Homo sapiens: one gene and its partners. The protein of the gene in region 4 purifies or fractionates together with the protein of the main gene of each other region. This does not show direct contact. Each region holds a gene or a part of one and is shown on either strand. Other genes may lie near its edges. The genes, in order: CLGN, ATP2C1, EIF2AK3 and OGFOD3.

The links.
Region 1: the proteins of OGFOD3 (region 4) and CLGN purify together in Homo sapiens (affinity purification with mass spectrometry; 3 studies listed by BioGRID and IntAct, with this or other methods). This does not show direct contact.
Region 2: the proteins of OGFOD3 (region 4) and ATP2C1 purify together in Homo sapiens (affinity purification with mass spectrometry; 3 studies listed by BioGRID and IntAct, with this or other methods). This does not show direct contact.
Region 3: the proteins of OGFOD3 (region 4) and EIF2AK3 purify together in Homo sapiens (affinity purification with mass spectrometry; 3 studies listed by BioGRID and IntAct, with this or other methods). This does not show direct contact.

The regions. Positions count from the first base shown.
Region 1 is NC_000004.12:140,424,287-140,432,136, reverse strand, and holds the start of CLGN (calmegin precursor), read left to right. Parts: upstream 1-4,488; 5' UTR 4,489-4,600; intron 4,601-5,349; exon of another isoform or gene 5,350-5,433; intron 5,434-7,850. UniProt on the Homo sapiens protein: Functions during spermatogenesis as a chaperone for a range of client proteins that are important for sperm adhesion onto the egg zona pellucida and for subsequent penetration of the zona pellucida.
Region 2 is NC_000003.12:130,994,559-131,002,373, reverse strand, and holds part of ATP2C1 (calcium-transporting ATPase type 2C member 1), read right to left. Parts: intron 6,332-7,815; coding exon 6,263-6,331; intron 5,695-6,262; coding exon 5,578-5,694; intron 4,769-5,577; coding exon 4,621-4,768; intron 4,081-4,620; coding exon 3,985-4,080; intron 2,857-3,984; coding exon 2,715-2,856; intron 1,155-2,714; coding exon 1,024-1,154; 3' UTR 1-1,023. UniProt on the Homo sapiens protein: ATP-driven pump that supplies the Golgi apparatus with Ca(2+) and Mn(2+) ions, both essential cofactors for processing and trafficking of newly synthesized proteins in the secretory pathway.
Region 3 is NC_000002.12:88,568,465-88,575,464, reverse strand, and holds part of EIF2AK3 (eukaryotic translation initiation factor 2-alpha kinase 3 isoform 1 precursor), read left to right. Parts: exon of another isoform or gene 1-18; coding exon 19-799; exon of another isoform or gene 800-951; intron 952-4,423; coding exon 4,424-4,591; intron 4,592-7,000. UniProt on the Homo sapiens protein: Metabolic-stress sensing protein kinase that phosphorylates the alpha subunit of eukaryotic translation initiation factor 2 (EIF2S1/eIF-2-alpha) in response to various stress, such as unfolded protein response (UPR).
Region 4 is NC_000017.11:82,388,314-82,395,005, forward strand, and holds the end of OGFOD3 (2-oxoglutarate and iron-dependent oxygenase domain-containing protein 3), read right to left. Parts: intron 6,231-6,692; coding exon of another isoform or gene 6,058-6,230; exon of another isoform or gene 6,018-6,057; intron 4,222-6,017; coding exon 4,085-4,221; 3' UTR 897-4,084; downstream 1-896.

The DNA of each region.
Region 1 (7,850 bases), on a different chromosome or scaffold from region 4:
GCTTTTCCTGGTGCACAGCGCAAGCTGTCAGTGGATCTACCATTCTGGGGTCTGGAGGATGGTGGCCCTCTTCTGACAGTTCCACTAGGTGGTGCCCCACAAGGACTCTGTGTGGGGGGCTCTGACCCCACATTTCCCTTCAGCACTGCCCTAGCAGAGCTTCTCCATGAGACCCCCGCCCCTGCAGCAAACTTCCACCTGGGCATCCAGGCGTTTCCATACATCCTATGAAATCTAGGTAGAGGTTCCTAAACCTTAATTCTCAACTTCTGGGTACCCACAGGCTCACCACCTGGAAGCTGCCAAGGCTTGGGGCTTCCACCCTCTGAAGCAGCAGCCTGAGCTGTACGTTGACCCCTTTTAGCCATGGCTGGAGCAGCTGGAACACAGAGTACCAAGTCCCTAGGCTGCACAGAGCAGAGGAGCCCTGGGCCCAGCCCACAAAACTGTCTTTTCCTCCTAGGTCTCTGGACCTGTGATGAGAGTGGCTGACATGAAGACCTCTGACATGCCGTGGAGACATTTTCCCATTGTCGTGTGGATTAACATTTGGCTTCTTGTTACTTATGAAAATTTCTGCAGTGGAGATTTTCATTTCTATCACATTGTCAGGCTGCAAATTTTCAAACCTTTTATTTTCTGTTTCCCTTTTAAAACGGAGTGCCTCTAATAGCACCCAAGTCACCTCTTGAGTGCTTTGCTGCTTAGAAATTTTTTACACCATATATCCTAAATCATCTCCCTCAAGTTCAAAGTTCCACAAATATCTAAGACGGGGCAAAATGCAGCCAGTCTCTTTTTTTATATATGCTGTGTGGTATGGATTGAAAAATGTACTTATTACATGTGAATATTCAATTGTACCACCACAATTTGTTGAAAAGACTAGGCTTTCTCTACCAACTGCATGTGTACCTATGTTGAAAACCAGTTCCCCACACTGTCTTATTCTGTTTTGTGTTGCTATAACAGAACACCTGGGAATGGGTAATTTATAAAGAAAAGAGATTTATTTAACTCACAGTCTGGCTAGCTGGGAAGTTCAAGGACATGGCTCTGGCTTGTGGTGAGGCTTTTGTGCTAGGCCAAAAGATGGCAGAGAAGGTCAAAGGGGAAGCAGACGCATGCAAAGAGGGAAAACCTGAGGGGCACCCAGCTTTATAACAACCCATTCTCATGGGAATGAATCCAGTCTCGTCAGAGCAAGAACTCACTCACTACTGCAATGGCATCAAGCCACCTACGAGGACAGGACCTTCATGACCCAAATACCTCCCATTAGGCCCCACTTTCCAGCACTGCCACACTGGGGACCAAATTTCAACATGAGTTTTGGTTGGGACAAACCAACCATATCCAGGCCATAATACATACACATGTAAGTCTATATAGAATCTATTCTGTTCCATTGATTTGTTTGCCTTGATACTAATACTCTTTGATAACTCTTTGATAACTATAGCTGTATATCATTCTATAAATCCTAAAGTCGGGTAGTGTTTCTGAGGGGGGTTATCTTGAGACACAAGAAAAAAACTCAGCATGGGCTCATTCTGCCAACTATATAGTTTAACCAGACGAATTCTGGGAAAAACAATGATGACTATTGTCATTACTATTATTTACTATTGTTTGATATTTTTGTTAAAGTAATAAGGAAAAAAACCTCAGAAAATAAGTATAAATATAAGAAAGAAAAGATCATTTTCTGCCATAGACATAATTATACATCTTGAAAATAAAAGTCAACCCACTGGAAATACTTGTGGAATACTTTGTTTCCTTTTCTCTATTTTCTGCACCATTAAAAAGCACATTCCTAAACATATGAAAATATACAAACATTTTTAAAGTATTATTTGAATTATCTAGGTTCTGAGTCCACTCATTGTATTTGAGTTAAAACTTCATTCTGCATAGCTCTTTAATCCTGATAATCGAGGCATTTCCTATATTCTGCATTTTTCAAGTGGCAAGGTGTTGTGGAAAGGGCACAGGCTTTGAATCCTCACTCTGCATCTTAAGATCTGTGTGAATAAGTTATGTAACTGATCTGGGTCTATTTCCTCATAAGTAAAATAAGGATGATACCTGTGGGTCAATTGCATATAGCAACTTGCACATAGTAGAACATTAATAAAACACAGCTCTGATTTTGATTACAAAACAGGCTTCCAACAGGACATCACTCTGTTCCATCAAGGAGCATGAACCTTTCTGCTTTTTTTTTTTTTTTTTTTTTTTTTTTTTTTTGACACAATGTCTCACTCTGCCATCCAAGCTGGAGTGCAGTGGCACTATCTGGGCTCACTGCAACCTCTGCCTCCTGGGCTCATCCCACCTCAGCTTCCTCCCACCTCAGCTTCCCAGGTAGCTAGGACTACAGGCATGCACCACCATGCCCAGTTAAATTTTTTGTATTTTTTTGTAGAGATGGGGTTTCATCATGTTTCCCAGGCTGGTCTCAGGCAGCTCGGCTCAAGTGATCTACCTGCCTCAGCCTCTCAAAGAGCTGGGATTACATGCATGAGCCACCATGCCAGGTCACCTTTCCTGCTTTTTATGTTTTTCTAGATTTCTGATTACTCTAGTCCCTCCAATCTTGATTACATTGCCTTGGTCTCTTCCCAAATCTCTCTTCAACTTTGATGTGTCAGAACACTTCACGACTCTACCATTCAGCATTACATTCTGGGACTCCTCCGCTTGTATTATTAAACACTACATCACTCTCAAAAGCCATACCCCTTGTCTTATTTGCAGATTATTCTTTCTCCTCTGACATTATCACATTGTATTATTCTGATGAAAAGTTGCCTATTAAACAAATTATAAATATTATATTCAATCATCCTTTCAATAAGTGGCAAATAATTTTGGAGATATGTTAAGGCCTTAAATTTCAAGGTTAGAGATTAGATTTCATGCTGTGGGTAATGAAGGGTCATTGGAAACTATTGAATGAGCTGAGGATTAAACTACGAAGTGTAGGTGGGAGGCTCTGAAGGGGGGCAACTAGTTAGGTAACTCTGAACAACAGTTTCTAAAGTAGTGAGAATCTAAACTAGAGAAATGGCACAGGGACTGGAGGGGGTGAGGACCTCTTTTAGATGATTTTATGGAGTTAGAGTTTAATTTATGGAGGCAGTGAATGTAGCAGCCAAAGAGTAAAAAAATGTTCTCAAGGTTTTGAGTACTATGTGACCAAGAAGATACTACTAAATCTTGCAAAAATTCACTATTCTTACATTTTTAGTTTTCAGCTTCCTCACTGCAAACTTTGAATGGATCCTTTAAAAAATCCCTCTCTAGCAGTTCAAGTGTATTTGTTATGGGCCACAGAAGTATGTTGAATAATAGAAGTCAGAAGGACGGAAGAAAGAAATAAAGGGTATAATATTGTTACAAAGTATCTCAAACAAAATGTCTTTTTAACCAGTAAATTTTAACACTATCCAAACACTCTCCCAGAGATGACAAAGTCAAAAGTTTAGAAATGCTGGTCTTAATTAGTGAAGCAATGTGAAAAAACTCAGTGATCTTGACCCCTAGCCAATAATGATACGTTGTGCACGGAATGCCACCAAACCCTTAAGATTGAAACTCTTCAACAAGGGTCTTAGACTCACAAGTCAATTAAATGTTGTTAATTAATCTTCCAATAAAATTAAATTGTTATACCAAATTCAAAGTCAAGATTTACTATAAAATATTAAGTAGTAAAATTAATATTGATCCAATATATAAAAGGCAAAGCAGCTTGTGATTGCATAATCATAGCATAAACTACGTTTATGCTAAGATTTATTTCAATGTGTTTGAAACTACAGGCTCTGAGAGAGACAGGCCTGATTTACATCCCGTTTCCACTGTTTACATGTTGTGTAACTTCGAGCAAGTTGCCATCAGTTTCATCACCTGGGTTGCCACGAAGGTTAAACAATGAATGTAAGCCCCTTAGAGCACAATGAACACAATAAATGTTAGCAGCTCTTATTAATAGTGTTGTTCGAGAGAAAAAGAACATATTGTTTTATATACAATGTATTTATTAACACTTAACGCATCTGTATTTGTCATATACACACACCAGACAGGAAAGCTCCTTATTAATCACCATGACTGCAGATCTGTTAACATCTAGAACTCTGGAGAAAACCTAGAGCCCTAATCTTGCTGCACTTATTACTGGACGTTGTTCATAAATATGATTTACATAAAATTCAGGACCCAATCATTGCGCAACAGGAGGTAGCACGGTCTGCAGAGAGGGCGGGAGCTCAGAGGAGGAAAAGTCTTCGGACTTGCAGGGGGAATTCCTCCTGGGCTAACCCGGGAGCGGGGTCCAGGCCACAACCGGCCGGCGGCGGCACAGGCTCCATGTGCGGCTCCCCCTGGAGGCGGTTGAGCCCCTCGGAGCAGGAGCGCGTAGCACACACCTCGGGCCGCCACCGCCTCCCGCCCGCCACCGCACGCGCACGCGCGGTTAGTAGTCGCTGCTGCGCGGCCGCCGGCGGGACTGGTCTGAAGAGACGCGGGGACCAAGTGGCAACGACTTGGACATCTGAGCTGTCACTGCCGAAAACAGGCCGCAAGAGAGGTGCGTGAGCAGCAGGCCGCGTTCCCGCTGTCCCGCTGCCCTTTGCGCGCAGATTGGGGTGAGGAAGCGGAGTCGTTGCTGCTTCCCCCAGGCACCCCGTTACTTTGCCGCCAGAGGGCTGAACCGGTCGGGGCCAAGTGAGGGTGGATGTTGAGTCTGGCGATGGGGCTGCAGCGAGCTAGGGTCTTGACTGGGCTCTGGCGGCCCCGTGGGTGGACGCAGGAGGTGGTGCCACCTGGGACCCTTTGTGTCTTCAGCACCGCCGCATCCACCTGCTGCGCCCGGGCTGGGGCGGACGAGCACGGGGACAGCTAGGTGCCTAGCCCGGCCGGCCTCCCCTGCGGGCTTGAGGAGCCACCGGGAGCCGAGGCCGTTATTCCAGCGGTTGCCATTGCAGCCCCGTTCCACGCTTGAGCCCGGGGCGCTCTCCCAATGGTTGTAGAGGGGGCCCGGGGCGCGTCTGGGCGCTGCTCACTCTGCTGACTGCTCCTTACAGAAACCCAAACGAGATCAAAATAGGCTCGGCTGTCTCAGTCTCCACCTATGTGGAAGCGAAGGGACCCCACTTCACGGCGGTGGGGCCAGGGACTGTTGGCCGCTCCCTCGATACCCGCGCAGAGCCCATTGTGCGCCGCCGGGGGGCGGGCGAAAGGGCTGGGTTGAATCCAGAGAGGCCCTAATTACTAGACTCATTATCGCCCCAGGCCTGTTTACCATCAATCAGACACTTTCGCTGATTTTATTTATAGCATCTGCCCAAGCAACAAAGAGGAGGTGTTTGCTTGGGAGTTAAAAGCAAATGGCAACCAAAGCTCAGGACTGGGAGAGAAAAGGTAAATAACGTGGCCACAGGAAGAAGTCTCAAATTAGAAAAGAGTTCATTAACGTATAAACTTTTTGTTGCTTAAAAGCAGGCAAAATCCCGATCTCATCTGATGATTTTGCTTGTTTTACAAATGTCGACATCACTCGAGGTAGCCCTCCTTTGGGTCATTGTAAGTTTGACCTGTTTTCAGTTTGGAGTTTTGCCTTCACGTCTTATTGGTTTGATCTTCCAGTAACATTTAGATCTCATCTCCAAATCCTCAGAACAAGATATTCTGTACTCTCTGTCTTAGCTAGTTGATAAGGTTAATTATTGTGTGTAAATGATGTAAGTATGTTGATGCATTTGTCTAGAAATTGAAGTGTTGTAAGTTAGCTGTAGTACTTTTTAAGTACCTAATAAATACTGGTGTTTTTAAATAGAAAACTAGAATTATGAACTTTAAAGAATCTTTGGATTGTCTAGTTCACGTCACAAATGAGAAAACAGGCCCACAGCAGTTTTTATCACTTGTCTTTTTAATAATAAAACTAGAAACTTGGTGCGATTGTGCCATGTTGGGTGTACTTTTTATTATATCATTCTACATTGCATTCCTGAAGCCACATGACAACTAAAACTTTAAGTAATAGGTGATTGTCAAACACCACTTCTGGAATATACCAGTGTTGGTCGGATCCTCAGTCAGCCATTAAAACTGAATAACAGCAGAAAGGCATCGCAGTTATAAGAAATAGCATGTACAAAAAGTGTGTTAAATAGGTGTGTTGAGAGTGAAAGAAGGCCCGGCGCGGTGGCTCACGCTTGTAATCCCAGCACTTTGGGAGGCCGAGGCGGGCGGATCACCTGAGGTTAGGAGTTGGAGACCAGCCTGACCAATATGGTGAAACCCCGTCTCTACTAAAAATACAAAAATTAGCCGGGCATAGTGGCGCGCGCCTATAATCCCAGCTACTCGGGAGGCTGAGACAGGAGAATCGCTTGAACCAAGGAGGCAGAGGTTGCAGTGAGCCGAGATTGTGCCACTGCACTCCAGCCTGGGTGACAGAGCAAGACTCCATCTCAAAAAAAAAAAAAAAAAAAAAAAAGGAATTACAAAAATGTGTCACAGAAACATAAAGTGACTATAGTGTTGGAAAAATGGCAGCTGTAGACTTGTTCAATGCAGTGTTGCCAGAAACCTTCAATTTGTGAAAAATGCAATAAATCAACGTGCAGTAAAATGAGGTATGCCTGTATGTACACACACACACACACACACACACACACACACACACACACCCTATTGATTCTGCTTCTCTGATGAACTCTGACTAATAAAATGACTCTCCTCCAAGTAATGATTCAGGGATTCTGCAACTTCCTACCTTGGAATTTTGCCGTTTTCAACCATGACCTTCAAAATTGCTTGCATCAAACCAGAAGGGGAAAGATCATAAAGAATTATAATTCATAATTATAGGAAGTTTTTATGGGCAAGGGCTGACAATGGCATACAGGTCTTCTATTTACATTCTGTTGGCTGGAACCAGGTAATGGTCACATCTAGTGCCAAGGAAATTACCCTTGTGATCAGCCAGCAACTTCTCCCACACTATACAACACATATTGCATATCCTGTGATTGTCTTTTCTTTGTGTGCCTTACTTACCTTTGATGTGACAGTGAGCATTACTTCAATACCAGTACATGAGCTGCACTTTATAATTTGTAATTTGGGGGTGGTAGTGGAGATCCAGTAGGGTTTTTAGGAGATATTGGTGTAATTATTTAAAGTAGACCAGACTACTTGATCTAGATTTCAAAGATTGGGAAGAATGGTATCTCATTCATGGATAAAGTTACTTGTGCTTCAATTTGTTATTGAACTACCACAGAAGCAGTGCAGAGAACATACATGAGATCAAAGATACGTGTTGGTGCAGAAGGATGTAGTTCTTCAGTGCCTCCCTTCTTATGAAGGCACAACTGATATTTAGTGATCTCAGCAAGCCTCATGGAGTGAGGAATACATAAGAAGCTTGGAACCCTGGGCATGCTACCTTTTAATTTATAAGGAGGGAAGAGGGTGACATTAGCACTAAATGTTCTACCCTATACCATATAAACAAATTCTTGCTGTACTAAAATTATATAACTTAAACAACCATACAGATCAATAAAGAAATAGATAACACCACAAGCCAACTAAACATAATAAACATATGGACAACACTGTACCCAACAATAGCAGAACACACATTTTTCTTAACTGCACATAGAACATTCTCCAGGATAGACCATATTAGACCACAAAACAAGTCTTAATGAATTTTAAAAGATTGAAATCATACAAAGTAAGTTTTCTGAACACAAAGGAAAGGAACTAGAAATCAATAGTAGAAGGAAAACAAGAAAAATTCACAAATATGTGGAAATTAAACA
Region 2 (7,815 bases), on a different chromosome or scaffold from region 4:
TTCATAAACCATTTGTTTGGGTTTGGGGACTTTTTATTCTAAGTCCAGTAGCCTATACTTCCTAAGAAATATGATTAAAAACATACATAACAGTAAAAATAATAAAATAGAATTACTTAGCTGAGGTATTTGGATTTATATTTAGAGGATGACAAAATGATATTTGACAAAGTATATATCTTTACCTCAAAAAGGAAGACATGTTAATATAATTTATTATAAACTTCAACCCAATCAGTCTTAAATGTTTTTGACTCTATGACTAAGCGTTAATTATGGACACTGTTACCCTAGAACACCACTTGATAGCCCTGCATGAATTCTGCCAAACCAAAGACATACCTTTTTAAAATAAAAATAAAGCAACCATTTACACTTACTAAGAAAAACAAAAATTTACTTCAAATTGTAGTATAGGCTTTTCAATCACAAAAAGAAAGAAAAGAACAGTGATCTGACAGTGGTCACATCCTGTGCAAAAAACTTGATACAAAAATGATAGCACATGGTATCTGAGCTGCTTACATTACAAGAAAAAGGAAATACAGTAGCTGAAATATGGCACTCCTGGGAATCAACTTCTAAACCAAATAGAATGCCTTTGAAATGATTAAATTTATTTGTGTATTAGTAAGAAAGCCCCACCACCATAAATAGTACAATATTTAAAAATAAAAAAAAATATATCTATCTAAGATAGATAGTGTATTTGTACTGTTAGACTTCTTTAAGTGCAGAAGGTGGTTCAGGTTTTGCCTTTTTAATTAAATAACTGACCATATGCTTTATAAAGTTTCACTCAATCACAAAAGCCAATTTAAATCAAGGAATATGATATCAAAGTTGCATAATTTCATTTGGGACTGCCAGCAGGTTAAAGTCTTAAGTCTTTAACATTAATGTTCATTTTTAGTCAATGAATAGTTAAAAAGTTCTCAAATCTTCATATCCTCTTGAACTTGCCCTTCTAAATGATCCTCAGACTGCAATTCCTAGTTTGCAAATAAAATAATGCAATATGCATCATACTTCAAGAAAAGATGATGATGTCGAACTAACATGCTTCTGGATCTTTTCCCTGCTCCTTTCAACCTTCTTTATAATTTCTGCCACTATGCACACTGATGAGGTGAGACCCAAAAGAAACAACAGATCTGCAAGAGAAAATAAGTTGGGTTTTACATTTCTTTGAAACTTACAGTTGCAAAGCTTAATAGCTTACATTTTTCTAGCATTTTAACACAACTTTTTTTTTTTTTTTTTTTTTTTCTGAGATGAAGTCTTGCTCTGTCACCCAGGCTGGAATGCAGTGGCATGATCTCAGCTCACTGCAACCTCCGCCTCCTGGGTTCAAGCCATTTGCCTGCCTCAGCCTCCCAAGTGGCTGGGATTACAGGCATGTGCCATCATACCTGGCTAATGTTCGTATTTTTAGTAGAGAGGGGGTTTCACCATTTTGGACAGGCTGGTCTTGAACTCCTGACCTCAAGTGATCTGCCTGCCTCAGCCTCCCGAAGTATTGGGATTACTGGCGTGAGGCATGGCGCCTGGCCACCACAGCTTTCAAACACATTGTTTCACAACTATTCCATAAGGCAGGCACAATCACCCTCAGTTAAAAATAAGAAAAGAAAAAAAGATATTAAGTGACTTATCCAAAGTCACATAACTAGGAAAGGCAGCAGCCAGAATTAGAACCCAAGTCCTCTGACCACTTTCCCTGAAACCTTATGTGGCTAGCCTTTAACAGTATCACCAACAAAAGGAGTTTATTTCATAGATCACACAGCCCTTTAAAAAAGTACTGTATCAACAGTAGTAGACAATTTGAATGACAATGCCTATCTGAAGATTAAAAATTTGACATTAATATGTTCTATTTCAAAGCATAGAAGACTTGTCTTTACAATACTATCCACACTATCTCAATTCTTATTTACTGCTTGGAAAATTGCAGATGTTTCCTTAAAATGCCATTTTTTTAAAAAGAGGAAGAAATGTGAATATGGAATTAAAATACTGAAATTCAACTAGTTCAATTTTAAGGTAAATTTTAACTTACAAGAAAAAATACAGTGAAACTGTATAACTCCTTTTCATAAATACCCAAATTGAGAACTCAATAAAGGATAGCATTACTGTCAAATATATCATTCCTCACACCTACACAGGAAAACTAATTTTTAAATGCACTGTATTATACATTTAATAAATGGTAATGTAAGAAAAATGTGTAATTTCCAAATAGTCTTTATAAAACATTCTGCTATTTGGTCAGACTGACATTTTGTGAAATTAGAATGTACAAACAAGAAAGAATAATGAAATTATTAGTTTACTGAAAATTCTAACTTTAAAGAAGAGAGCAACTTGGTTTTCAGGGAGATTAAGTCTAGTTTTCTCTTCATACAAGATGGCATAGTACATAAAAAGTTATAAACTATACTCTAGAGCAGGTTTTGATTTGCTATATTTGAGAATCACGTATTATGATTTTTATAACAATTGATAACCTATAAAAGAGCAAAAACCAAAACCCTGGAGTTAGGAGAGTAATTCCCCTGAGCTTCCCCAAGTGAAAAAATAGACTCCTTTTTCAAATCAAGTGAGTTACTTATTTTGCTATTTTAAAAGAATTTTAAAATTAAAACAAACACATTAGAAAATATGATTTATCTAAAATACATAAATGATAAAGATAACGTTTTCTTTACCCAGTATGCTTAGGCTCTCAGTCTGAAAAACCTTCTGAAGCGGAGGAAAGTAAATAACTAGTAATTGTCCCATGATGGATCCAAGAACTGCATAGCAAAACATTCTATTACTGCAGAGTCCAATCTCAAACACAGACTTGGTCTGTTGGCAGAGCAGAGAGTTCATTTATTACTCCTTGGTCACAGAAATAACTTCTTTATTATATTCACTTCTAATTTTTAACAAGCAGTGTCACTTTATCACTGAATTGTGCAATGTCAATTCTATGAAATATCTTAAATTTTACTACTGTTTTGGAATAATTCAGATGGAATAAAAGTAAATATTAAAGTAGCTTTTATTTTATTTATCAAGAAAAGGCTTGCTTAAAAAGTGACACTATATAATTTAGACCATAGAAAGAAAAGAAACCTTTTAACATCCCAAACATCAAGAAACTTTATTTGTATTTTGCTAAATCATTTCTATACATTCACTAAGGTAGATAATCTAAAATCCTTTCTTGGAGAATGGACCTAATTGTGTGTGTACTGAAAAAGTAAAACCACTTTTCATAAAAAAATAAATATTACAGCTTCTTCAAAAATTGGTCAATTAGTGAGAATTCGCTGTACTCAGAAGTTCCAGCATGGCAAATGGTAATATAGTTAAGGATTCATAAAGTGCTTTAAAGCTGAAATGAATAGTCATGCCTCAAATGAAACTAGTTTTTAAGGACAATATGCTCTAAAAAAGTACCATAAAGCTCTAGCCCATTATTTTCTATCAAAACACTTAGACCAAGAAGCAGCAGTCACACCTTAAGATACAACAAGGGAAGAAAAGCAAAATTAGAATGTCCTAAGCTTTGACACAGTGACAGGAGTGATGGGAAAAAAAATAGGCACATAACTGCTCTTATACTCCTAGCAATACTGTCTTTTAAAATGAGACTAATAAAATCTCAACAGAAACTATGAGGTTTGTTCTATGCTCAAATAATGTTAACCACGATCTATCTTATAGCTATAGCCAGCTAAACGCAGATGACAACACCTGTGAATTATTAATACTTTTATGTTCTAGTCAGACATAAAGCTTACCTCCCACAAATGCCCCATCCTCATTGTGACCAATGGCACATGTTTATAAGAAGGCTGTGTCTGGGGCTGCAATCTGTGGCTACAAAATTAAGCAAAGCTAAAAACCCATAATCTTTGCCTACTTATTAGAAAGCACTCTACTCAAGTGAGTCAATCAAGTCAATCAACTAAGTTCACCTAAACATACCTGGGATCTGGAACTTAGTGCATTGAACATGTCAAAAAACACAAAGCATGTGAAGGTCATTGTTGTGTCTCGAGGTGTAATCACATTGTCTCGTAGCTGTCAAGAGGCAATAACAAAATTACTTTTCAGTGGCTGAATTTAATGGATAAATCGCTGCTTTTTAAAAAATATAAACATTTTCTTTCCATTAGGAAGAAATAACTTTAGCCTAACACATGAAACATAAAAGCTACCTAAATTTCCTATAAATCACCTAGTGAATAGCTGTAATCTACATAATAAAAAGTAAAAAAAAAACTTCTCATGAACTATGTATTAGATATTAAAATACTGTTATTATTTAAAAATAATAAAGTGGCTCTATGATTTTAAGACTCAGATTTTCCAACTTCTCTCTAAATTTTCATGTATTTTTATTGTAACTGATACTTCTCTGCAGATTTATTCTAATACATGAATCAATAATTTTATTTATCCATAAAGATGGAAATCAAACTCTTTTAAAATGTTCTTATATTTTTCACTAAAAGAGCTCCCTTAACTTCCCAGCCTTCTGGGTAACCCATCAAAATAACTAAGAATCCTATCAGATATACAGAATTCATGTTAATATAGCAGCTTGGCCAGTGAATATACCTCACGCCAGAAGACAAACAAAGTCCCACAAACAATGATTATTGATGAAACAAGTATTTTAAGTATCAAGTTTTTAGTCAAAATGCTGTCTTTCCAGTTGCGAGGAGGTTTACGAATGACATCTTTATCCACTGGTTCTACTCCAAGGCTTAAAAACAAACAGAAAAATAAATTACTTTCAAGTTTTAAGGTCTGGATTTGTTACTTTCACAACCTCACTAACCTCAATTATTCGGCAAACTAAATGCTTTCTTATAGAAACAAAATGTTGCATCATAAAACGCTGGCTGATTACGCAAAAATAACCACTGATTTTGTCACTTTTTCTCTCCTCTTTATTTGTTTGGCACAATTTGATAGGGGATAGATAATCAACTTTCAAAAAACCATCCAATTCATTTACATGTAAGTTTACCTATTTCAAATACGGTGTGAAATACATGACCTACCGACTGAATTTTGAAATATCTTTCATATAAAGAGGTTTTAACTGGGATGATTTGCTGGAGTGGCCAAATGACATCTATCACTCAACTACCCCATTATTATTAAATTTTTTAAAAAAGTTATGACACTCAGGTCCTCTAATACTTTCCCAAAGTCTCTAAAACTGACAGTAGAACCTAGATAATAAAACTGAACCCAGAAATTTCTCCATTATACCCATTTCTTAGAAATAAAAGGCTTACTTACTTCCTGAGGACAGGGATAGCACCTATTCCTGATCTATTCTCAACCTTAGGCTAGGCATCTAACAGTGGAAAGGCTCAGATCTACACTGCATGCACACTCAAAAAGAATTAATAAAATACACACATCACACAATTTATAACATAAATGTTAAAACATTTGCTGCAAAGTTTTCCAACACTGTCCATAAATCAAGTTTTAAAACTTAATTATCAGGGTAGTACACATTCCTTGTCTTTCCAGCTCATGCAATTAAAAAACTCGTACCTCTGAGCTGGGGGTCCATCCATAATAATATTGATCCACAAAATCTGCATGGCATTGAGAGGATTAGGAAAGTTCATTAATGTAGCCAATGAGATTAAAGTTAATGCTGCTATACTCCTGTTGAAAAAGAGAGTCATTTAAAAATATCAGTAGAGTAAATCTGTTGATTCTATGATACCACTTTTTTAGCATTTAAAAATCTCTTACTACTATGCTTTTAAAGGAAGACTGTTTCAAGTAAACTATTCTTCAGTCACGTGGACATTTTAAAGCTAAGAGTATTTTAACAAAGGATTTTCAAGATGTTTAGACAACAGGAACAAATAAAGAATTTTTACATCTGCATGATAGTTTCAACAATATTTTGGTAACTGTTCTTTGACTACACAATACCCCTTCTACTTTTGGAAAAAGATACCAAGAGGAAACAATGAGATGTGAGCTATTAAATAAATCACAAAGATTTATACATTTTGATGATACAGACATCTAACTGTTACATTTACAACCTATTTATCATGCCATTTAAAATTTCAGAATACAATAAATTTTCTTTTTGGAAAACTGACATATGAACAATGCTCACAAATATAAGGCAGAGAAGTTTCTAGGCATTCTGCTTAAGTTCTACTTTTCATATAATTTATCCAGAAGACCCATGGTGACAAATTTCTTGCAAACTTACGTGCTCAGCTGGAATCTAACGAAATTTTTAATGTTATTATAAATCCCTTTACCCTCTTCGATTGCAGACCTGAAATTTAAAAAATAAAGATGAAGTGAGAAAATATTATCATACAAAAATGTATCTATACTAAAACACTGTAGAGCTAATTTTGAAAATAAATTTCCAACCGGGCACTGTGGCTCATGCCTGTAATCCCAGCACACTGGGAGGCCGAAACTGGCAGATCACCTGGGGTCACGAGTTCGGACCAGCCTGGCCACCATGGTGCAGCGAAACTCCGTCTCTACTAAAAATACAAAAATTAGCCGGGTGTGGTGGCGCATGCCTGTAATCCCAGCTACTCGGGAGGCTGAGGCAGGAGAATCGCTTAAACCCGGGAGGCGGAGGTTGCAGTGAGCCAAGATCACACCACTGCACTCCAGCCTTGGCAACAAAGTGAGACTGACTCAAACAAACAAACAAATAAATAAAATAAAATTCCAACTAATACAACACATGTATCAATATGGAAACATTTATTTTAGCAAAGAATTAAAGTCAAGCCTAAGCTCTACCTGAACTAATTTGTCACAATATTAAAATTCTTATTCTGAAGAAGATACTTCAACATTAAAATCATGCATTGTCTCTTCACACAAGAGAAAATACTTCACATTCATAATACATAAAATGATTATCTTTTTTTTTTTTTTTTGAGACAGGGTCTTGCCCTGCTTCCCAGGCTGGAGCGCAGTGGCACAACCTTGACTTACCTGCAGCCTCGACCTTCTTGGCTCAAGCAATCCTCCAGCTCAGCCTCTAGAGTAGCTGAGACCACAGGCTCACATCACCACTCCCAGCTATTTTTTTTGTATTGTTTGGAGAGATGGGTTTTGACATGTTGCCTAGGCTGGTTTCGAACTCCTGGGCTCAAGTGATCCATCCACCTCAGCCTCCCAAAGTGCTGGCATTACAGGCATGAGGTACCCTGCCCAGCCATGATTATCTTCTTCACCTTCCTCTAAGCTCATTTTTCTTAGTGGTACAAAATGCAGAGTAAAGGTTTAAACTAATGCATGTCAGGAATCAAATGGCAATGAGATATATAGGAATTATAGAATTTAAGCTACGTGTTGCTCCTGCACATCAAGTAGATCACATGTTGCAGAGGAATTAAATGAAGAACATGGTTTACAAGGATTCATATAAATTATCTCATTCATTTAGCTGAATCCAGGAAAATCTATGCTTTTTAATCAACTCCCCATTTCTTCTAAGATTTCTATATAATTATAATAATGGAAAGAAAAAACTCATATCCTTGCAAAAGCTTGGCAAATACTGTGAGTCCTAAGCTCCCAAATGTTTCCCTGTAGGCCAAAACAGAGTAATAAAGCAGCCTGGAACATATAATTGGAATTTATCACTAAACTCAGGTCATCCAACAGGTAGCTACCAAAAAAATAAATAAATAAATAAATGGGATTCACATGATCCCCACCTGAACACTGTGAAACTGACACCACCATGTATTACACTGGAGTCTTAAATCAACTGGAAACTGTGGCTGA
Region 3 (7,000 bases), on a different chromosome or scaffold from region 4:
TATTTCTCCCACTTTTAGCACAGACTGGCCACTCAGCTCTCCTAGCCCAATGGATGCACCATCAGTTAAAATACGCAGAATGGATCCTTTCGCTACAAAAGAACATATTGAAATCATAGCTCCTTCACCACAAAGAAGCAGGTCTTTTTCAGTAGGGATTTCCTGTGACCAGACAAGTTCATCTGAGAGCCAGTTCTCACCACTGGAATTCTCAGGAATGGACCATGAGGACATCAGTGAGTCAGTGGATGCAGCATACAACCTCCAGGACAGTTGCCTTACAGACTGTGATGTGGAAGATGGGACTATGGATGGCAATGATGAGGGGCACTCCTTTGAACTTTGTCCTTCTGAAGCTTCTCCTTATGTAAGGTCAAGGGAGAGAACCTCCTCTTCAATAGTATTTGAAGATTCTGGCTGTGATAATGCTTCCAGTAAAGAAGAGCCGAAAACTAATCGATTGCATATTGGCAACCATTGTGCTAATAAACTAACTGCTTTCAAGCCCACCAGTAGCAAATCTTCTTCTGAAGCTACATTGTCTATTTCTCCTCCAAGACCAACCACTTTAAGTTTAGATCTCACTAAAAACACCACAGAAAAACTCCAGCCCAGTTCACCAAAGGTGTATCTTTACATTCAAATGCAGCTGTGCAGAAAAGAAAACCTCAAAGACTGGATGAATGGACGATGTACCATAGAGGAGAGAGAGAGGAGCGTGTGTCTGCACATCTTCCTGCAGATCGCAGAGGCAGTGGAGTTTCTTCACAGTAAAGGACTGATGCACAGGGACCTCAAGGTCTGTATTTGTGGAGCATCACCCTTGGGGTTTCAATCTGACGTTTTGTGATTCAGAGCAGTACTTGCAGTACTCTGAAGGATCCTTAAGAGTTGGGGAGAGTAAAAGCATCTGAGAGCAGAGGTCTGAGAAAGTAGCCTCGAAGGGGCCTGCTGCAAGAATAAGAAGTCTTATGTCTGAAAACTTTAGGCAAACCATGCATTCATTGTCTTCAGTAATGTGTTTGTGTTCATTTTACTGTAAAAGGTATTCTCAGTAGTCCAGGTGAGGGAAAAAAAAGAAAAAAGAATCTTTAGGTAAAATCCACCATGAGCAGATATAGCCTGTTTTTTTGTTTGTTTGTTTGTTTTTGTTTTTCTATGGTTTTGAGTAACCCTGACACCAATACCTCCAGGGCTCTGAAGCAGCATGGTGAAAGGGATCCGAATGGAAGGAGAGACATGGGTTCCTTCATTAGCCAGCTTGAATTGGGGCAAATCTCCACACTTTTGCTTCTTTTTCTGAACTGTTTAGACTTTGGGGGAAGGGGTAAGAAGCCGAATGGGGAAAGGTAGCAAATAGTTAACAGATGACTGTTTACAGCTCTAAAACCTTGGATTCTATTTTCAATATATTCAGTAGTGAATTTTGCAGTAATATAATATGCAAAATTATTAAAGAGTCTTACTAAAACATGACATTTCCGTAGTAGTGTTTCTAAAAATAAGTACATGGAACTTTTATTTAACTAATTTCCCACATTCCATATACTCTTAGCCATCACCAGTAGATGTGGAGTGAATGTATAAATACTTTTCTGATGAAAGTAGCTTAAAGTCTTGATAGATGTGGATCCATTTTAAGTCTTTTCAGACTTAAAACAGACTTGTTTCAGGCACAAAAGTAGCTATTTGGACACAAGTTATTTTCTTCTAAAATCAGCAGTAGGTTTTCAAATTCTTGGGTATATTTTAAGAGTTTTAGGGTAACAAGAATAGGAATTAGAAATAATTCTTATTTTTTAATATAATTGTTATTTAGTCATATAAATCATTATGCTTCAGTGATTTTGACGTGGGCCCAAACTGATTGCCAAGAATTGTTCTGCACTGAATGAAAAGTTCAGAGATGAATTATTTGGTTGGATTGGAGAAGACAGTTTACAGGAGACCACACACCCCTAATTTGAGAGAATACTAGCAGTTAGGTTTGAATATAGTAAACGCTTATCACTAGGTGGGAAACAGCTAGCTGAAATACACATTCTTCTTGTACTTAACACTTGCTGTACACACAAATGCCAACTTGAAAGACAATGAATCATGTTTTCACTAATAATGAATATTCTTCTGCTAATTTTATAATGTAAATGAGATATTGGTAAATATCCATTTAATGCTACAATGTTGTCTAAAGATTTTTCTGTAATTGTCTATGCACCAGAAAAATTGCAAGAAGAAAGTTAATATTCCTGTTAGTTTTTCTAGAAATCAGAAAGTTTTATTCCTTTCTAAATAGAAGACAATTCCTTTTAAAGATTTCTAGTGCGCCACCCCCAACCAAAAAAAAAAAAAAAGCCAAGATTTTTGTTCCTGGGTGAAAAAGCTGTACATTTTGCTACGTTCTGACCTAAATCTTTGAGCTCAATGTTAAACCTTCTAGGCCCTCTCCCCCTGTTATATTTTGGTCACATTTTTGTCTTCAGGACTTTGGCTCCTGCCTCTTCAGACTAACTTCTAGTCTTCTATTTTCTCCACTCTGAACTTTTCTCAGTTCCTCTTGATATACACTGTTCTGACAGAAACCTGGTCCTTCTTCATTATTCTCATCACACCTGGATTATTTATTCTGTGGTTTCTATGGGGTATGAACCATATCTGTTTCTTTTACCTGTTATAGTCTCAGTACAATGCCTGAATGTTCTAGATGGTCATACCATTTATTTTGAATTTTATTTTCTTTGCACTCAAAAGTGTTTATACTGACTTAACCAGAAAAGGAAATCTGTTGGCCCACATGGCTAAACTGTTGAGAATTCAGGTAAAGCTTTAGCTGAGATCAAGTGATTTAGCCAGAACCTGGTTTCTGTCCTCCCCATTTCTTGTTTCTATTTAAGTCTTTTGGAGTTGGTGGGGTAGAGGGTGGAGAGAAAAGTATTGCTTTTTCCCACTATCAGAAATTTTATTCTACTTAAACCAAGGACACCTACCCATCCCTCAACAATCCCTAGCCAGGCAATGGGATTCCATGGATTGGCGTAAGCAACTTTTAGAGCATGGATGCCTTCCACACTAACCGTGGGGTTTTGCTGCACAGTCAGCAAGAAGGAAGTTCCCAAAGTAAAGTCAAGATACTTCTGCTGGAAGCACAGGGAGATAGATACTGGAGAGCCAAAAAGCTTGTCTATTATAGGGTTCAGTAAATAACAACTGCCATCAGATGTTGGGAGTTGGGAAGAAAGATGACATTTAATGCAGGATAGTCTATTATTGCCTCTGGTACAAAGTTATTTATTGGAGAGCTGCAGATTATTACCATAGATCTTATACACAATAACTTCATGCTTCCAAGTCAAAATCGTTTAATGGTATTTTAGAGTTTGGGAATGCAATGTTATTTTCTGGCAGTATTTGAAACATGATGAAATTCAATTTCATGAGCTAAATGGCTTCCTTTTTCCTCATTTCAAGGGCTATGAATGGTGGTCATATTACCCGCAGAGTAGAGTAGACTCTGAGGGAGAGGTGATGTATTTCATGTAGGGCACCTTGGGTTTGAGAAGCCCATGAGACCTCTGGTTAGATGTATTCAATAAACAGTGTAATATGAGTTTAGAACTCAGGGCAGAGATCTGGGAGTAGATATAGTCTTGAGAACATAGAGGTTTTACGAGAGGCAGCATAGAGTAGTAGTGAAGAGCTCTTATCCCTTCTGATAATCTATATCCCCCTCAGACGCAAACCAAAAGATCAGTCTGTTTCATTCATTCACCAAATAGTAATTAGCTACCATAGAGCAAGAACTGGACTGAAATCTGGGCACGTGGCAGTGGATCACAAGGTCCTTTCCTCATAGAGCCAGACTGCTCAGGTCTGAATCCCTGCTTCACCACTTGCTAGTTGGGTAACCTTGGGCAATTTGTTTAACTTCTGGGCCTCACTTTCTATGTCTGTAAAATGGGGTTAGTACTCATCTAATGGGGTTGTAGTACATGAGTTAGTAGTAGTAAACTGCTTTGAACAGTGCCTAGCACATTGCAAGTTCTATTTATGAACTAGTTATTATTAGTTATAATTATTAAGGCTTTAAGTCATAAGTGTAGAGATGCTTGCCTGGGAAGAATATATAGAATAATAAGATTGAGGATTAAGTACCATGATCCCTAGGGAATGTGCACCTCAAAGGGTTTAAGTAGATGTTCAATAAATACTAGCACTCTTTGCTACCCTTCCCTTTTCTTTACTAGCAGTACTTGTCTGGCACAGAAAAATTGTCACTATTTTCCTGTTAGCCCATTTTAAAAAGAAATATGCTTGAAAATATCTAGTTTGTTGTATTTTTTCTTTGTAGTCTTTTAAATAATTCTCTTTACTTTTTCGCCTCCATGCACACCCACTGTACTTTTGTCTGTTGTATTCTTTCCAGCCATCCAACATATTCTTTACAATGGATGATGTGGTCAAGGTTGGAGACTTTGGGTTAGTGACTGCAATGGACCAGGATGAGGAAGAGCAGACGGTTCTGACCCCAATGCCAGCTTATGCCAGACACACAGGACAAGTAGGGACCAAACTGTATATGAGCCCAGAGCAGGTGAGTTTTTCAGACCTTTACTTACTAGCACAGCAGCAGATGTACCTGATGAATCTCTTCTCATGTTTTCATTAAAATACCCAGTAATCTAAAACCCAGTAAGTCTGAAAATTATGAAAACTGGCAGTAGTGTTCCAGTAGTGGAATAGTGACACAGCTAAGATGTAGTTTCTACAACCTGAATTGGGGCTGGATTAAGAAAAATACAACACATAAAATGCACTCACCCCCTGAACAAGCACCTGACAGCAACCAGGAATTTGGAAAGAGACTTTGAATGCCACCCTCCCAAACTTAACTCGTTTGCCTTGTGTAGACTGTGTTGGAACTGTTTTCAGAGCCAGCTAGACCCAGAGGTACTATACTGAGCTGCCCTTTGTGGTCACTCATAGGCAACTTCCAGCATGTACCACAGTAGGAAATAGAGGCACACAGGCCGGCAGGTGTTGCCTTGTGGGCTGCTTGGCCTTCACAGGAAAAGCACTGTAATCAGGGCAGGGACTGGAAGAGCTGGGGGAGCAGGGCATCCTGGAAGCATCAGGCGAGCATGCTCAGCCACCACCAGGCAAATGATCTTCACAAGCTTCTCTATGCTTAGAGCAGCGGGTCTCGGACGTTTTGGGCTCAGTACATACTTACACTTGTAGAAATAACTGAGAACCCAAAAGGTTTTCTTAACAAAATTTTATCTATCGATATTTGTTATATTAGAAGTTAAAAGAGAAATTTATAAAACTTTATTAAATCAACTAAATAACAATGAAACCTATCACATCTTAAGATATTTTTATGAAAAATAAGTATTTTCTAAAACAAAAAAAAATTACAGGCACCAATTCCCCTGCAAAAAAAAAAAATTAGAGTGACATTTGTTTACATTTTTGCCAGTCTCTTTAAAGCTAACTTATAAAAGTGCTACATTCTTCTATCTGCTTTTGTGTTCAATCTGTTGCAGTATGTTATTTTGGCTGAAGTACATGAGGAAATCTGGCCTCGCACAGATATGTAGTTGGAAAAAAGAGCAATATTTCATTTCAAGTAATTGTAGATATTTTGTCTTTGATAGTATATCAAAACTTAGTAAATGATAGTTTCTTAGAAGTCATTTACACTGTGGAATCTAAAACCATTCATGAATATTTTGTACTCTGGTACTTTTAACATCCCTTGGTCCATTTTGTACTTTGAATGGATCTTTTTACCCATGCTTGACTTTACATTGTGCATTAGTCATTTGGAAACTATTGGTTCCCTAAGTTTGGCAACTATTCCAAAAGTCATCACAGTTCATTATGTAATATAAAAAGTCACTTTGGTTAATACAACCACCAATCTCACCAGAAAAGGCTTTATGTACATATTAGGAGGCTATCAAATTCCCACTGGTAGACTGAAATCTTCCAAAATTTTAATTTTCACTTAAAAGCTCAACTTTTAACATTGGCAACAAATACTGTTAGTTTTCCTTGAAATGCCATTCTCACATTGTTCATCTTTTTTTCTCTTTAAAAAAAAAATGTTGTTTGTTTTTTTTTTTGAGATGGGGTCTTGCTGTGTTACCCAGACTAGTTTTGAACTTCTGGCCGCAAGCCATCCTTGAACCTCAGCCTCCCAAAGTGCTGGGATCACAGGCGTGAGCTACCATGCCCGGTCTCATTGTTCATCTTTAAGAAAGTGTCCCTCGGCCAGTCGCAGTGGCTCACACCTATAATCCCAGCACTTTGGGAGGCCGAGGCAGGCAGATTACCTGAGGCCAGGAGTTCGAGACCAGCATGGCCAACATGGTGAAACCCCGTCTCTTGTAAAAACACAAAAATTAGCTGGGCATAGTAACGCATGCCTGTAGTCCCAGCTACCCAGGAGGCTGAGGCACAAGAATTGCTTGAACTTAGGAGGCAGAGGTTGCAGTGAGCCGAGATTGCACCACTGCACTTCAGCCTGGGTGACAGAGCAAGACTCCATCTCGAAAAAAAAACTCTCTGTCAAGTATCCAAGTCTCAATAACTGTAGTTTGTCTACCAATTATTCTTTCAAGTCAAAATGGTGTTCTATGAAAAGAGCAGCTAGAGCATATTGTAACTCAAATAATTGCACAAATGCTAATGATACTCACAAGCTAATCTATGCTTACATCAGCAGGTCTCAACTTCTTAAAATTAGTTTGTTTTTTAAATTGACTCATAATTGTACATATTTATGGGGTACATACTGTCGTTTTAATACATACACTATTTAGTGATTGGATCAGGGTTATTAGCATATCCAAGGTATCAAACTTGGAGACAACTATTGTACTTTGGTATGGAGCATAAATGTTTTTCTGAATATTTTCCATTTTGTCAGATTATTAAAAAGGTGTATATTTAAAGGTTGAGATTTAATAAATTAATAATTTCTACTGCTAAGGAC
Region 4 (6,692 bases):
GAGCTGTCCAGCAGCAAGCGCTGACCTGGGAGACGTGCCAGGTGGCGAGTGGGCGTGGCACACACCGCTGGTGTCTCAGGCCCTTGGCTCCCATCTCGGTGATAAGCACAGCAGGGCTGGGCAGAGCCGGGCCAGGGTCCCCATCAAGAGAGAAGGTGGAGGGAGCAGAGGCCACCACGCTGCACACCAGGGCTGTGACCATGGTGGGGTGAGAGGTGGCTGCCACGTGGGTTCCTGGCAGTGACCCACACACCACACAGAGTCAGCTCCAGGCTGGCCATGGTGACGAGTCTTCCGGGATGGGACCAATGATGGGAGGGTCACGCCCGTTTCCCTTCCTTTGAAAACGAGTCTCCCATACATAAAAATGGACGGCTTTCCTTGCTCACCCTGTGGCCTCACAGGCCCCGACCACACACCCACACGGCACTAAGGCCCTCCCGGCCTCGGCCCTGCAGAAAGCCGGAGACCTCCGGGAACCCTCCCCGGAACCCCTCCCCGGAACCCTCCCCGGAACCCCTCCCCGGAGCCCCTCCCCGGAGCCCTCCCCGGAACCCTCCCCAGAACCCCTCCCCGGAACCCCCCCACCCACTTCACCGTCGTGGCCTCTGCTTTCGTGGCTTCCTCCCCTTCGTTCGTGAGAACTCGGGACATGTACACGGAGCTTTCCACACAACTCAAGAAACCCAGCCTTGGGGCTCTGTACTCCCCAGGCTGACATACGGCGACCTCGTGTTTCGGCTTTGCTTTCGCAATGCACGGCTGTGCGCTCGGGCCTGGCTCTGGTGGCTGCCGCGTGTTGGAGACTCTGTCCACGCAGGTAGCAGGGACAGGGCCACCGCCAGGTCAGGAGCACGGACGGAAGCAGGAAACATCTCCCTTCCCGACAGCAGGACTCGCCCTCCTAGATTCTTTATTTTGAAAGGAATAATCATCTTTGACTTTAATGAAACACTTTTACTTAAAAATAGATCACTCATCAGAGGACACACCTGAGACTCCAGTTCCTCCCTGGAACCTTCTAGCGGAACCAATCACCCCTCGTGGCTCCTGGAACAGCCTCACGTCGGCCACACCCGACACTTTCATCAGGTTCACGAGCACTTCTTGGGCAAAGCCCAGGGTGTGAGGATTCACTGCTGTGCCCACGTATTTTCCCACCTTTTTATTTTTTTAAAATGCCCAGGCTTCAATGATAAATTTTTTTTTGAGACAGTATCTTGCTGTCTCCCAGGCTGGAATGCAGTGGAGCCGTCACAGCTCACTGTAGCCTCGACCTCCTGGGCTCAAGCAGTCGTCCTGCCTCAGCTCCGAGTAGCTGGGACCACAGGAGCACACTGCCACGCCCAGCTACATTTTTTAAAAGTTTCTTGTACAGACAGCGTCTCACTATGTTGCACAGATGGGTCTCCAACTCCTGGGCTCAAGTGATCTTCCTACCTTGGCCTCCCAAAGTGCTGGGATTACCAGCATGAGCCATATGTTCCCACTTCAGAAGGAAATTCTTCATTCTGGCTAACACGGTGAAATCCCATCTCTACTAAAAATACAAAAAAAATTAGCCGGGCATGGTGGCGGGCGCCTGTAGTCCCAGCTACTCGGGAGGTTGAGGCAGGAGAATGGTGGGAACCCAGGAGGTGGACCTTGCAGTGAGCCGAGATTGCGCCACTGCACTCCAGCCTGGGCGACAGAGTTAGACTCCGTCTCAAAAAAAAAAAGAAGGAAATTCTTGCTTTTGCCCAAATATATTTCTTTGTCCAAGTATCTCTGTGATTATCATGAATAGTGTAAGTAGCCAAGAATGAAAATCAAACTAATAATTTACTTATTTCAAAAGCACTTTAACCCATAACAAACCCAACACCCACTTTCTTCAAATGCATTTATCCTTTAGACGTGGCGAGAAGCCGGCGACATCATCATTTACTCCAAGGTGACAGGATCAGGTTTCCATGCAGCATTTTCCACCTGCCCCGACCATGACCACAGCCACGGACCCTCTGGAAAGTCAAGACTGGGAGAAGCTCAAGGGCGGCCCAGGCTCAGGCGACTTCCCACCCACGATGGGGCCCACCAGCCCGACCCGGAGAGTGTCCGTGAAGCAGCCGGCCCCGCAAGGACGGCTTTGGCCACCAACCGGAGGTGGGCCTCATCCTCCCAGATCCATGGAGTCCTTCAGAATCGTGCCTCGCTCCAGTGTCCCACATCAGAGGCCATGGGAGGGCGCGGGAGCCTCAGGGTTCCTGCCCCATCTGCCCAGAGCCTGCAGCCCTGACCAAGGAGGGTTCCCCATACACGGGCAGAAGCTGTGGACCCAGGGAGCCTATCCCACGCCGTCCTCCGCATGTGGCCCGTGGTGCAGGAGGGGCCCTGGGCAAACCAAGGTGCGGCCCCCAAGTCCCCCGTACCCAGGGGTCACCATGCCTCAGCTGGCCTCACGCCCGCTCCTTCCCAGGGGTCACCATGCCTCAGCTGGCCTCACGCCCGCTCCTTCCCAGGGGTCACCATGCCTCAGCTGGCCTCACGCCCGCTCCTTCCCAGGGGTCACCATGCCTCAGCTGGCCTCACGCCCGCTCCTTCCCAGGGGTCACCATGCCTCAGCTGGCCTCACGCCCGCTCCTTCCCAGGACCCAATAATGCTGCCCTTTATCAACCCCCAGAGCAGCTCCCGGGCCACAGGTGGGGCCTCCTCCAGTCAGAGGCACCTGTGCCAGGGGCTAGGGAACATGGATCTATGCCAGACAGGCTAAGGGAGGAGGGACCGAGGCAGGAGGGGCTGAGGGAGGAGGTGCTGAGGGAGGAGGGGCCCAGGGCTCTCCCCAGGCAGCTGGGTCAGGGCATCCAGGAGAGCCCAGCTTCCAACACCACTCAGGGTGGGCGGCCGTCCCCCTCCCGGGAAGGTGCCCAAAGCCCTGGACAGTCACCTCGAGGTGACTGTGGGCAGAAACTGGGCTTGGCCTGCCCTCCCTGCCAGCCACCCCACCCAGGCCTCTCCACAACTGGTCTATTCGGGGCTCCTCTGACCACCACTTTATTTTTATATTTTTAAGATGGAGTCTCACTCTGTCACCCAGGCTGGAGTGTAGTGGCACGATCTCGGCTCACTGCAACTTCTGCCCCCTGGGTTCAAGCGATTCTCCTGCCTCAGCCTCCCCAGTAGCTGGGATTAATTTGTTTTTGTGTTTTTAGTAGAGACAGGGTTTCGCCATGTTGGCCAGGCTGGTCTTGAACTCCTGACCTCAAGTGATCCTCCTGCCTCGGCCTCCCGCAGTGCTGAGATTACAGGTGTGAGCCACCGCGCCCAGCCTGACCATCAGTTTAATGCCAGGGCAAAGGGGGAGGAGGAGACCTACCCTCGACCCAGCAGAAGGCCCATGGGAGCCGGCACAGCGACGCCAAGAGCCTCCTTGGTGAGGACACTCGGACCCTGGCCCTTGGGATGCTGGCCGCTGACAGGGCCAAGCCTGGTGTGGTGGGGCCGTGGCCCACGGTGATTTGTGGGCCAGCAGCATTGGGGGTGCACGCAGGGCTGTGGGAACGGCAGATGTTCACCTCCACCTGAATCCAGCAGAACTCCCACCCACCCCAAAGGACCCCGTTGCTGCCTCCAGAGCCGCCACTCACGGACCCTTCTCCAAAGCTGCTGCGGTTTGCTGATGCCGAGACCCCGAACAGAAGCTGCTGGCCCCACGTTTGTCCCCATTTATGGCTGATGCTTTAGCCAGTCTTTGATGGGCCGGGGGGTTGCTGAACCTGGACGAGTCCCGGGGGGTTGCTGAACCTGGGTGGATGAGTCCCGTCCATTCACAGATGGGGACTTGTGCCCCGTCCTGCTGGGTCCCTTTCCTGGCCTCCACCTCAGGCTCCCAGGCCTACAGCCCAAGCACACATGATGCTGGAGAAGTGAAAAGCTGGTTCCCTTCATTTACTCACAGATGAAAAGATTAACACGTCAGCAAATCAAAATCAGAGAATTCCTAAGGCACTCTGTGCAACAGGAGCGGGTGGACGTGGGGGTGGGTGCACGACTGGCGCGGCTGCCTCCACACGGGCCCTCCTGAAGTTACCTTGGCCCGGCTGCTGGCTACGGGAACGCTGGGTCCTCGATGCCATGGTCGGGGTTGCAGCTGAAGGCGATGGTGATGGCGTAACGGGTGCCCCAGTGGACCTTCTCCACGCGGTGTAGGTTCTCGGACCCCGAGGTGAAGAAGGAGACGCGACCTGGGAGAGGAGAAGAGAGAGAGGTGGCCATAGAGCCACACCCACGGCCACAGCCTTCAGAGGGTCTGCGGTCACCTGAAAGAGCAACTATAACCAATCAACACAACCAACCAGGCAGGCTGGAGAAATTGCCCCTCTGGGAACTGCTTCTGCAGGAAGGAGGAGCTGGAGAAACAAACGCAGCAATGCTCAGGGGCCCTGTGGCGGAGGAGGGGCCCCCCGGGGCCAGCAGGGACTCTGTGGTGGGCAGGACAGAGGAAGATGCTGCAGATGAGGCCACCACTGGCTCCAGACACCCCAGGTCATCTGATCTCCCGAGCTCCGGGCATTTGATCTCCTCAGCTCTCATGGGCCTTCCAGATCTGACACTTTAGGATCTTATTTCTAATCACAGGTTGAGAACAAAAACCAAGCCCTGGGGGTGTTCTAACAAAGAATCAGGAAAGACAAGATAAAACATCCAACTCGCAAACACCTCTCTGTCTCCCTTCAAGGGGTGATAGAGATGACGTCTGAACAGGCAGCTTCCACGGCAGTAACCAGGGCCCGGGGCCTGAGAGGTCCTGGAGGCAGGGGCCTATCTCAAGAGACGCCAGTTCATTTGTCTTCACATTGAAGTGGCGCTGCCTACCCCACCGTAGAGTCCTGTGGTAAAGCGTTCACCGCTGGACACAGCCATCGACCGTCACCAAGTGGGAAGCAAGGGGCGTTGAGACTCAGAGGACACCGGGCTCCCCCACGTGGCTCCTGACGTCCTGTGACAATTTCATTCCCCTTCAAAGGTTACCACTGGAAATGCAATTCCTTCCTTTCACATTTGCAAACTTCACTCGATCTTTGAAAGGGGAGAGAAGTCCATCCCGGGTGTGCAGGGCATTCTAGCTTCAAGAGGGAGTCAGTTGCACTGTGCCTGGAAATAGTGGAGCAAAAGAAATCACGTGGATGCAATGGTCACCTCTTAATGGAGGCCGGGAAGCGCCCTGGGATGCAGGCAAGGCAGCCGATCTTTCCCGGACCGTGTGGGCCACCTCCAGATATGCAGGACACGTCCTTTTCCAGGTCGGCTGGAGTCAGGGCACCTTCTAACCTTACACTTTTAAAGGACACATTGTCCTTGGTTTCTTCCAGCTTCAATCGAGGCTGAGACATCGGCACAAGCAGGAGGGCCCAGCGGCTCGCGCCATTTGGGACCTCAGTCGCCCATGCTCGTCCACACTCTCTGCTCTCTACTGCTGGCAGACGTGGTTCTCAGGAGGCTGCCAGCATTCAGTAAAAGGAGGGTCTCCTCTGGCCCTCTGGTGTTTCTGCACATCTTGCAAACAGAGGCACCAAAGGACAGGGGGAAGGATGGAGGACAGCTGAGCCTCGTGAGCTGTGGGAGGCAGGAAACCACCCACCATCCACACTACTGAAGGCTCAGACGGAGATGAGATCAATACGGGGCCAGAAAAGGACTTTTTTTTTTTTTTTTTTTTTAGACAGTCTCGCTCTGTTGCCCAGGCTGGACTGCAGCGGCATGATCTTGGCTCACTGCAAGCTCTGCCTCCTGGGTTCACGCCGTTCTCCTGCCTCAGCCTCCCTAGTAGCTGGGACTACAGGCGCCCGCCACCACGCCCAGCTAATTTTTTTGTACTTTTAGTAGAGATGTAGTTTCACCGTGTTAGCCAGGATGGTCTCGATCTCCTGACCTCATGACCCGCCCGTCTTGGCCTCCCAAAGTGCTGGGATTACAGGCGTGAGCCACCACGCCCGGCCTAAGATGCACTTTCTTTAGTAAATGACTATTAGATTATCACCTGCTTCCTTAAAGCAGGACTCAGCACGGCAACCAAGGAATCAACAATAAGCAATGCTCTCAGCTTCCAGAATCGCATGTGTCTCTCCCCTCTCGGGCGGGTGGTGAGTCCCCGGAGGACACCTGACTCCAGCCTTCGCACCAGCAGCTTCACTGGCTCTCGGTCCATTAACTTCTTGGAACCCACAAGACATCATCCGGAAACAAAAACATCCTGGGGACACAGGACAGGGATTGTGTGGTAAAGGGTTGACTCCAGGGGCCTGGGCGGTGCACACCCTACACCCTCCAGAGAGAGGCCTGGCCTTTGCCCCGGCTCCCAGGGGGGACCTCTGAGCCCTCAGAACATCCTGCCTGATAGGAGAACCTCTGTTTACCAGGGACCTAGGGCCACACCAGATGGTCCACACTGACAGTGTCACTTATGGTGGGACGTGGGCCACAGAGCAGCAGCTCAGCATCCAGAGGGGCTGGGGACAGAGGCCAGCCGTGCCTGCACCACCAGCCCCCCAGTAAAAACCCTGGACACCAAGGCTCGGCCGAGCATCCCTGGTCAGTGACACCCCCGAATATCATCACACATCACTGCTGGAGAACTAAGAGCTGTTGACCCAACTCCGGGAGAAGACAGTGGGAAGCTCACACCTGGTCACTCCTCAACCTGCCCCACGGCCTC